Linked DNA regions of Homo sapiens. The gene in region 1 interacts genetically with each later gene. Each region holds a gene or a part of one and is shown on either strand. Other genes may lie near its edges.

Region 1 (3,652 bases):
CTGGGATCCCAGGTGGGGTGTGGGGCTGTTAGCAGCCTCATCTTTTTGACATGCAAAAGGAAGCAAATCGGATCTGGATGTGGATAGGACAGTATAAATCCCTAGTCCCAGGATGAGGCATTATAAGATTGGAACCACATTTTTAAATAAATGAAACTACCAGGGTGAAAGTCATATCAACTGACAATAAACTAGGATAACATGCTGTGCTGAAAGAGAGAATGGAGAGTTTCTAATAACCAAATTATAAAATATATATATCTAGCTGGGGTAATAAAATGGAGGAGGAACATGAATATTTCACACCATGGTCGCCTCTGATGCAATTGTCAGCAGCACCTGCCAACAGACATGAGTGATGTGGCCATGGCTTGGGGATGGAATGTGAAAAACTTGAAGAGGAGTTATGATGCGGGTGAGGAGAGCTGGAAGCAGAGTGGGGTAGACAAAAAGAACACTTACCATCAGGATTCTGGGAGTCAGCATCTTTAGGGATGGTGTACAGGTCATAGGTACTATTCTCTAGATTGCTAGCTCTCTGTAGAAGAAAAGGGGAAATTAAAATGTTAGTGAGAAGCACCCAAGATACCAGTTTTCCAATTTACTCTGACAGAGAAAACAGTTCCATTGCACAGACACCAATCTGAAACCATACTTTTCTTACCCTTCACCCAGAGGGCATTTGACTGTTTCTACATCTATGAGTTATAGGGCTCTTTGCCAAACACATCAGCACTGATGTCACTTTATTTTCTTTATCCTCCAAAGATGCAGATATTATCTGAATGAAAGTAAGAAATGCTCTCTACTCCACAAATTAACAGACTAGGACCCTGATATTCTGGTACCCCACCCTGAGGACTCATCAACTGAGTACTCAACCTCTGGAAAGGAAAAAAAAAAGACATCAAAGAAAAGACACTATAGGAATGCAAATGTTTATTGGAAAAAGAAGAAAAGAAAAAACACTCAAGAAAACTCAGAGTATGGGACTACTAGATATTAAAGAAGAACAGATTAGACAATATAGTTATATGAGGAAAGACATTTAACTTCATTCCTTTTAACTTGGCCACGAGGGCACTAAAATTAGAATGTCATTTCTTTTTTTTTTTTTTTTGCAAATTCTGTTGCAAGAAACAGAGAGGAGTCATTGATGACTCTGAAGCCAACCCCACTGATATGAACTTCCTCTCAAAATAATAGTTCTTCTATTTTCACCCAAAGGAAGGGATCAAGGTAAACATTTTCTTTCCATAGGAAATATATATATATAGTCTAAACATTCTCTCAAATTATTTCTAGTGATCTGGGTCATTCATTCTGATGCTCCATTAAGTTCAGCTTTAGGAAAGATAGGCAGTTCACAAATGCTCAATATGTTTACGACAACTGAAACCTACCTGATTTGAGTCTCTGAGTGATCACTGTGTCAGCTCTCACAAAATGACCATTAAATAGTTTCTAAGAAGCCATTAAAGATTCCCTAAGGGCATAAGAAAGAGACCTATGGAAAATGAGGAGAACCTAGGAGGGCTCCACAGGTTACTTACTGTACAAAGCAGGACTGCATTTTCTGCTGGATTGTATGACATATTGAATACTGGAAACTTGGAACCACTAGAGATATATATAGAAAAAGGAGAAAACAGGGAAGAGGCATAAGAATAGAAGGAAGAAAGGAATCACCCCCACACCTCCTACTTATCCAATCTTTACACTATATACTCATCACTTTTATAATCAGGAATAAAATGAATAAATATTGTATTCTCTTCCTTTAAGGCTTGGCAACTTCCCTAGCTCAGCTTTGAACAAACAGTTTTAAAAAGTAAGCCATAGTAGAAGTCAAATTATTCAACAGAAGGTAGGTAGGGTTAACACTCACTGTAGTGAGTGGGACTGGTTCTGCTTGGATACAAATTCCTACACGTAATTGCAGTGGACACCACAGAGTAACATAATGTGATTTGTCTCTGGCTGGTTTCTCCTGTCCCTTGGAGTATTCACATAAACCCATTTTTTTATTGTAATGATGCTAAAGGGTGGTTATCAAAACCTCATTCCAAATTTTGCCACCATGAATGTTTCAGCATGCTGATGCAGCTGGCTTTTCAAAAGGACAGGTCCTTTTGCCAGGCATCCCAGAGGTTATTGTATCTTCAGAATTAAGAGTTTCCAGGGACATATATTCTGGTTCAGAGTTGTGCACTTTTTGCTGGAAGGCAAGGGAGAGTTAAAGAAAAGAAATGCCAAACAAAGGCGAAAAGTTCTGTTACCAGTTTGGGCCATTCTCTATCAAGAAACTTCCTCTGGCTTGCAAGAGACCCAGCAAATTGTGGCAGAATGATTTTCCATCCACAAGGTCACTAGCATTCTCAAGAAGGGAACTATCATTCTACTCATGACCACTTCCTTGCCTCCCTCACTCATTGGGTTTAAACTGAGCGGGCTCATCTAATGGGGATTCCATCTGTGACAGAATACGAGATCCAAAATGTCATTTAAAAGAAGAGTCTTGGTTGGGTGCGGTGGCTCACGCCTGCAATCCCAGAACTTTGGGAGGCCGAGGTGGGCGGATCACAAGGTCAGGAGTTCGAGGCCAGCCTGACCAACACAGCGAAACCCCGTCTCTACTCAAAATACAAAATTAGCCAGGTGTGGTGGTGCACACCTGTAATCCCAGCTACTTGGGAGACTGAGGCAGGAGAATTGCTTGAACCCAGGAGGTGGAGGTTGCAGTGAGCTGAGGTTGCATCACTGCGCTCCAGCCTGGGTGACAGAGTGAGACTCCATCTCAAAAAAAAAAAATTTAAAAATAAATAAATAGGCTGGGCGCGGTGGCTCACGCCTGTAATCCCAGCACTTTGGGAGGCCAAGCCAGGCAGATCATGAGGTCAGGAGATTGAGACCATCCTGGCTAACATGGTGAAACCGTCTCTACTAAAAAATACAAAAAATTAGCCAGGCGTGGTGGCGGGCGCCTGTAGTCCCAGTACTTGGGAGGCTGAGGCAGGAGAATGGTGTGAACCCGGGAGGCGGAGCTTGCAGTGAGCCGAGATCGCGCCACTGCACTCCAGCCTGGGCGACAAAGCGAGACTCCGTCTCAAAAAAAAATTAAATAAATAAAATAAATAAATGAAAGAAAGAAAAGAAGAGTCTTGTTTGTGGGAGTTGTATCAGGGTGACAGATGAGAGGGTTTGGAGGAAAGAAACAAGTCCGATTTACCTCCGCAACTGCATCACAGCTACATCTTTGGAGCTGTTGAAATCCAGCTGTCGTAAGAATCGGTCCTTGACATAGTGTAGCATATTGCCATGAACAGCATAGGCTGGCCGTTCCCGTTCCAGCTTAAACACAATCATACCACCATCATGGCCTGGGGGACAGGGAGAGGAGGAGAAAAAATTAAGCTGTAGGCAAGAAAAAAACCTGGAAATTGGAGATACGTAAGGATGAAGATTATATCTGTAAGACAAGACACCTGAATGCATCCCTTATTTGCCTAAATTCTCACAATTCTTGGAATCTTTATTTAAATAATTCTCTGTGAATCCTTTCCTAATACTATTCACACTGCCACACTTAGTGTCACTATCCACACTGCCCTTTTCTGTGTTCCCCTAATGCTTTGTACAAACCTCCATTACA
Region 2 (3,652 bases), on another chromosome or scaffold:
GTGGGGAGGCTAGAGGCACACTTACTGAACTGGGAACAGTGACCCCGTGACTGAGGCCCAAAGATGGAATTGCTAGTGGGAGGTGTGACTGGAGCAGGAAGATGACAGAACTGTCTGGGGTGGAGGGGTGGGGTGGGCTGATGGCTGGACAGCGTCCATGATTGTTCTCTCACTTCCCTCTCTGTCCAGAACCCCGAGCAGTCTGCGGATGAAGATGCTGAGAAAAATGAGGAGGATTCAGAAGGTGAGCCAAAGAACCTTTGTTGCAAATAGGAAGTCCAGAGTTAGTGTTGCCCTTCGCCTGGTTTCTTGGCTGCCCTCCAGTCTGGCTTTTCAACATTCAGGATCTTTTTCTCCCTCCATTACCACTAGGCTCTTCAGATGAGGATGAGGATGAGGACGGAGTCAGTGCTGCAACTTTCTTGAAGAAGAAATCAGAAGCTCCTTCTGGGGAGAGTCGCAAGTTCCTCAAAAAGATGGATGTAAGAGCCAGGGTTAGATGGATGATTTCCTGCCAGAGGTAGTTCCTGAGTCCCTGGGGGAAAAAGACAAGACTCAAACCCCTAGGGTTGGGAGGGGTGGAATTTAGTGGAGTTGAGAACAAGCTTCCTCTTACATCAGAGCAGTGGGCAAACAGGGATCTGGGCCCAGCTCTGCCAGGGGAAGCTGTGTGTGTTCCTGCGGCCAAATTGCAGCATCACTCTGGGACTTGATGGTGAGTCCCAGCCCTTGGTATCTTGATTCCATGAGTAGCTGCTCTTGTTCTACTCATGTAAATAAATCTCGAACATGCGTTAGTAAGGAGGAGACACCAGTCAATCTCCCTGTCTTCTTGCTGATCCTCTTTTCTTCCCTCTAAGGATGAAGATGAGGACTCAGAAGATTCCGAAGATGATGAAGACTGGGACACAGGTTCCACATCTTCCGATTCCGACTCAGAGGAGGAAGAAGGGAAACAAACCGCGCTGGCCTCAAGATTTCTTAAAAAGTAAGGAAAGTAGTGGGACCTAGGGTTACACTGGAACTGGTGGAAAGCTCTTAATTGTCTGGAAGGTTATTGATTCTTCCATGGAGTCCTTTTAGGTTGGAGCAGCCAACTGTTAGCATTTTACAGTAGGATCAGAGAGTCAAGTACATTAGTTGGCTAAAGTCACGAAGCTAATGTGTCCTAAAGATGAGAATTGAAGGCTCCAGAGTCCAAATATTTACCCACAGCCTTACTCACTGCGTGTGGATTGGGTGCAAATCTCACTTTGGCACCCGATACCTGTGTGACATTGGACAAACTACTTAGCCTGTCTAATCTTCAGTTTTCTCATCTGTAAAATAAGGCAGGGAACCCTCCCTTCCAGAATAGCTGCAGGAATACAGGGAGGTGTGATGTAAGAAAGTAGTTCATCTAGGACTGACGTGTGGTGAGCCCTCAGTGTGCGTTGCTACTGTGTTACCCTTCCTGATAACTTCTTAGTACACATACAGCATACAGACTGCCGCAAGTGTTCATGACCTTTACTGGGACAGTCAGAATAGGGGAGGATCCCAGTGTGGATTCTGTCTCCCAGCCTTTATCAGCTGTACAACATTGTATAAGTTACTTGACCTTAAGTCTTAGTTTCTCCCTTTGAAGTAAAAGTGATACCTGCTCTTTTGTATCCCATGGGAGTGAAATCTCAAGCTCACTAAAAATAGTGCTTTTATTTATTTTTTCTTAGCCAGTTTGCACAAACTACAGATAAAAAGTGCTTTTTTTGAGACAGGGTCTCACTCTTCCCAGGCTGGAGTGTAGTGATGCAATCTTGGCTCACTGCAACCACAACCTCTTGGGCTCAGGTGATCTTCCCACCTCAGGCTCCTGGGTAGCTGGGACTACAGGTACACTCCAGTACATCCGGCTAATTCTTGTGTTTTTAATACAGACAAGATTTCACCATGTTACCCATGCTGATCTTGAACTCCTGGGCTTAAGCGATCCTCCCGCCTCAGCCTCCCAAAGTGCTGGGGTTATAGGCGTGAGCCACTGCACCCAGACAAATAGTACCCTTTTAATGGGAAGATTATTGCTCTCAAGGTTGCTTTCCTGTGTTTAAAAGTTGTGGTCGTGCTGCTTTAGGGAGGTAGTGAGTTTCCAGCCCTCTAGAGGTCTAGAGAGGCTGAACAACTTACTTGGTGGGCATTTTGTTGAGAAGGCCTTTTTTGTCCAGTGCTTCAGGGAACACTGGTCAAGGTCTGGGCCACATTGTCTATCACACCCCTTCTTGGAGGGTTTACAACCACCTCTGGAAAGTTCCATGAGAATAAATATACCTAACTTTGTTTTATTAACCATCTCAAAAACTTGCTTGATCATGAAACTCGTTTTTTTAACCTGTTGACATCTTACAGAACTATCAGCGTTACTATTGGTTCAGGTCTTTTATATCTACTGTACTTTGTGTTTTTGTCTTTGAATAATTGTGTATTGAAGTCTCCCATTGTGTGGACTCCGGTGTGTGATGTGCACTGCACATGTGTGTTACACAAAGGCTCCTGTCTGAGGGAGCAAATGGGGCCTAAAATTAAACTTAAGACATCAAGGCTGGGCACGGTGGCTTACGCCTGTAATCCCAGCACTTTGGGAGGCCGAGGCGGGCAGATCACGAAGTCAGGAGATCGAGACCATCCTGGCTAACACAGTGAAACCCAGTCTCTACTAAAAATACAAAAAATTAGCCAGACATGGTGGCAGGCGCCTGTAGTCCCAGCTACTCGGAAAGCTGAGGCAGGAGAATCGCTTGAACTGGGAGGCAGAGGTTGCAGTGAGCCGAGATCGTGCCACTGCACTCCAGTCTGGGCGACAGAGCAAGACTCTGTCTCAGAAAACGAAACAAAACAAAAAAAACTCTAAGACTATAAAGCTATACTTTTATAAATACAGACTCAAAAGTTCTTAACAACATAGTAGAAAACCAAACACAGCAACATACAATAAGGATTATATGGGAGCACCCCCTCCTTGCCTGTAGGGGGATGGAGGATGGGTGGGCTCATCTCCCAAAAAAGTTTTAAAAAAAAATTTAATAACAAGGAGGATTTATCCCAATAATAGAAGGATGTTTTAATATGAAAATCAACTAATATACTATATCAATAGAATAACAGACAAAAGCCGTAGAGTCATCTCAGCAGATGCAAAAAAAAGCATTTGAAAAAAATCCTAATATTCTTTCATGATAAAAGACTGAAGCTAGGAATAGAAGGGAGCTTCCCTCTACCTGATAAAGGATGTTTATGAAAAGGACGTTTCCTGTCCTTTTATTTTTAACTCTGCCATGCTGTATGATTAAGAGTGTTTCTTGGCTGGGCGTGGTGGCTCACGCCTGTAATCCCAGCACTTTGGGAGGCGGAGGCAGGCAAATCACAAGGTCAGGAGTTCGAGACCAGCCTGGCCAACATGGCGAAACCCCATCTCTACTAAAAATACAAAAAAATTAGCCCGGTGTGGTGGCCTGCGCCTGTAGTCCCAGCTACTCATGAGGCTAAGGCAGGAGAATTGCTTGAACCCGGGAGGCGGAGGTTGCAGTGTGCCGAGATCGCGCCATTGCACTTCAGCTTTGGGCAACAGAGCAAGACTCCGTCTCAGGAAAAAAAAAAAAAAAAAAAAAAAAGAGTGTCT
Region 3 (3,652 bases), on another chromosome or scaffold:
TTGTTCATTTCTGTTTATCACAAAATCATATTCCATTATTTCATTATATGGAAGTACCTCAGTTTATTCGTCTACTGAAGGGTATCTTGGCTGCTTCTGGTTTTTGGCAGTTATCATGTTTTGGCTGTCAACATTTGCATGCAGGTTTTTGCGAAACAAGTCTTCAAATTAGTTGGGCACATATATAGGAGTGCTATTGCCAGCTCATACGGTAAGACTATATTTTGCTTTGTGAGGAACTGTCAGTCTTCCAAAGTGATTTTTACATTATATTTTACATTGCATTACAAATGTAGGAAATCACCTTACTAAAGGGCATGAGGGTAAAGTGTTGATCCAAGCAGCTTTGGAGATGAGTGGAGTCTATAAGACAAAGGCCAAAGGAAGTGCACATAAGCACTCTAATTGATAAAGTTGGTTTCCGTGGGGCAGCTGGTTAACAATTCTGATACCATTATACAACGGTAATGTGGTATCGGAACCAATGAATTGAGGTCCTCTTGCTTCTCATAGTTGCCAACATTTGATGTCAGTGTTTTGGATTTTTGTTTGTTTGTTTTGAGACAAGGTCTCACTGTCGCCCAGACTGGAGTGCAATGGCATGATCACCCACCTCAAACTCCCTGGCTCAAGCAATCCTCCCATCTCAGCCTCCCAAGTAGCTAGGACTACAGGCATGTGCTCTCGTGCCTGGCTAATTTTTGTATTTTTTTGTAGAGACAAGGTTTTGCCTTGTTGCCCAGGTCGGTTTCGAAATCCTGGTCTCAAGTAATTCATGCCTCCCAAAATATTGGGATTACAGGAGTGAGCCACTATACCTGGCCTCTTGTTTTGCATTTTAGTTATTCTAATCGGCATGTGGTGGTATCTCATTGTTTTGATTTCTAGTTTCCTAATGACATTTGATGTTGAACGTCTCTTTTTTTTTTTGAGACGGAGTCTCGCTCTGTCACCAGGCTAGAGTGTAGTGGTGCGATTTTGGCTCACTGCAACCTCCGCCTCTTGGGTTCAAGCGATTCTCCTGCCTCAGACTCCTGAGTAGCTGGGACTACAGGCACGTGCCACCATGCCCAGCTAATTTTTGTACTTTTAGTAGAGATGGGGTTTCGCCATGTTGGCCAGGATGGTCTTGATCTCTTGACCTTGTGATCCACCTGCCTCGGCCTCCCAAAGTGCTGGGATTATAGGCGTGAGCCACTGCGCCCGGCCTTGAACATCTTTTTATGTGTTTATTTGCCATCTGTGTATCGTCTTTGAGGCACCTGTTGAAATCTTTTGCTCTTTTTTTTTTTGAGTTTTGAGTTTTAAGAGTTCTTTGTATATTTTGGATGCAGGTCATCTGTCACACATGTTTTGCAAATATTTTCTCCCAATCCGTGCCTTGTATTTTTGTTCTCTTATCTGTGTCTTTCACAAGGCTGTTTTTTATTTATTTTTTTGAGAAAGGGTTTCACTCTGTCAGCCAGGCTGGGGTGCAGTGGTGCGATCTCTGCTCACTGCAGCCTCTGCCTGTTGAGCTCAAGTGATCCTCCTGAGTAGGTGAGACTACAGGTGGGTACCACCACGCCCAGCTAATTTTTGTATTTTTTGTATAGACACGGTCTCATCATGTTGCCCAGGTTGTTTTTTTTGAGGCATTCTTGCTTTGTCACCCAGGCTGGAGGGCAGTGACGTGATCTTGGTTCTCAGCTCACTGCAACTTCTACCTCCTGTGTTCAAGCAGTTCTCCTGCCTCAGCCTCCTGAGTAGCTGGGATTACAGGCATGAGCCACCACGCCCAGCTAATTTTTGTATTTTTAGTAGAGACAGGGTTTCATCATGTTGGCCAGTCTGGTCTTGAACTCCTGACCTCAGGTGATTTGCCCACCTCGGCCTCCCAGAGTGTTGGGATTGCAGGCATGAGCCACTGTACCCGGCCTCCCAGGCTGTATTTTTAATAAAAGTCCAAATGTGTCAGTTTTTTCTTTCATGATTGTGCTTTTTTGCTTCTCCTTTTTTATGTGATTAAAATTACTTGTTTTAAGAAGTTGAAGAGTCTTAGTTTGGGCCGTTTCTTATTGGATTGGCAGCTTGATAAAGCATGTTGAATGGTGGTTACTTTGATTTTTTTCTGTTTCTTGGTGGAGATCTCCGGGTAGTGTGGACATTAGTTCTCTTTTTGGCATTGATGTAAATGGCATTTAAATTCAAGTAATTTTACTTTCAGTATCTGATGAAATCATGCTACTATGGACAAATGGCTCTTTGGTCTTGTCTCTGCAACAATGACATGCTGTTTTAAAGACTTAATCTTAAATGTTTGTGCTTCTCCTAAGTAGAAATAGATCTCTAATTTGCTTTTTTAAATATTAGCTAAACAAATCAGCTTCTTATTTAATTGGCAATTAATATTTCTTTGAGTTCATCTTTTGGGCCAACTTTCTCTTACAGATCAATAAGTAAATCTATGCTCATTAATGGTAGTGACTCTACCTCAGGTACTCACATTTTACCCTTGGTTTTTTTCCTGGTAATCTTGCTTATGGTGGGTTGTAGTTTGTTGTTTCAGGTCAGTTAATCTTTTTCTTCAGTTTCTGATATTGATATCCTACTTTAAAAGATTCACCTTATACCAACACTACAAAATTACACATTATACTACTTCTCTGTTTTCTCTCCTTACACCCAAGGCTTCAATCTAGATGGAGTTTTGGTGTAAGCAGATAGCTGTTTGAAAGAAAATGAAAGATCATTTCTGTCTAGATTCCTTAGCAGTTAGAATGAATACACATGTACCTGTTTTCCTTTTCAGATGAATTCAAATAAAACTAATTGTAGTGACATGTCAGTGACCTATCCATATCTGCAATCTAACAACATGTGAGGTGTGGAGGAAGTGGCAGTGCCAGAGGGCTATCATGAAACTAATAGCTTCTTGTCTGGAAGTGATTTGAGGAGTGAAATCCATTGCCCTCTCAAACTTTAATGTGTGCAATTAAAGCATCAGCAACTCAAAGTTGGTGGTCAGAAGAGCAGCTTTCTTTGTATTTGCCTTCAGTTTATTGTGGTCTGAATTTTGATCTCCGGTTTTGGGCTGAAAGAATGAAAAGTGTTTATTCTGACAGTGACATTTGGTTTTTACTCATCTGTTTAGTAAACCTTTTTGATGTAAAATAATGTTCAATCCTGTCTAGAAATTGCTGTAGAAAGCAAACTCTTCTCAAACTTTAGGCAGAGCTAAATATATTTTTTCAATATTCAAACAGTTATCTGTATGTTAAAATAAATTCTGGGCCAGGCATGGTAGCTCACGCTTGTAATCTCAGCACTTGGAGAGGCCAAGGTGGGAGGATCACTTGAGGTCAGGAATTAGCGACCAGCGTAGGCAACATGGGGAGACTGTCTCTACAAAAAAAAAAAAAAAAAAAAGAAAGATTAAAAATTAGCTGGGCATGGTGGCACACACCTGTAGTCCCAGCTACTCGGAAGGAGGCTGAGGTGGGAGGATTGCTTACGGCCAGGAGTTCAAGGCTGCAGTGAGGTATGATCATGCCATAGCAATCCAGGCTGGGTGACAGAGTGAGACCCTGTCTCTTAAAAATAAATAAGTAAATACATACATACTGGACTTGTTTGCTAAATCTTAGCGATAGGGACTGTAAAACTTTTCTTT

Evidence for each region.
Region 2: changes in COPA (region 1) and EIF3C together harm fitness less than expected from each alone (positive genetic interaction), as found in Homo sapiens cells (one large-scale study listed by BioGRID).
Region 3: changes in COPA (region 1) and AURKA together harm fitness less than expected from each alone (positive genetic interaction), as found in Homo sapiens cells (one large-scale study listed by BioGRID).

Annotation. Positions count from the first base shown.
Region 1 is NC_000001.11:160,308,639-160,312,290, forward strand, and holds part of COPA (coatomer subunit alpha), read right to left. Parts: intron 3,381-3,652; coding exon 3,230-3,380; intron 1,621-3,229; coding exon 1,554-1,620; intron 539-1,553; coding exon 463-538; intron 1-462. UniProt on the Homo sapiens protein: The coatomer is a cytosolic protein complex that binds to dilysine motifs and reversibly associates with Golgi non-clathrin-coated vesicles, which further mediate biosynthetic protein transport from the ER, via the Golgi up to the trans Golgi network.
Region 2 is NC_000016.10:28,714,447-28,718,098, forward strand, and holds part of EIF3C (eukaryotic translation initiation factor 3 subunit C), read left to right. Parts: intron 1-189; coding exon 190-244; intron 245-372; coding exon 373-482; intron 483-860; coding exon 861-988; intron 989-3,652. UniProt on the Homo sapiens protein: Component of the eukaryotic translation initiation factor 3 (eIF-3) complex, which is required for several steps in the initiation of protein synthesis.
Region 3 is NC_000020.11:56,375,064-56,378,715, reverse strand, and holds part of AURKA (aurora kinase A), read left to right. Parts: intron 1-3,652. UniProt on the Homo sapiens protein: Mitotic serine/threonine kinase that contributes to the regulation of cell cycle progression.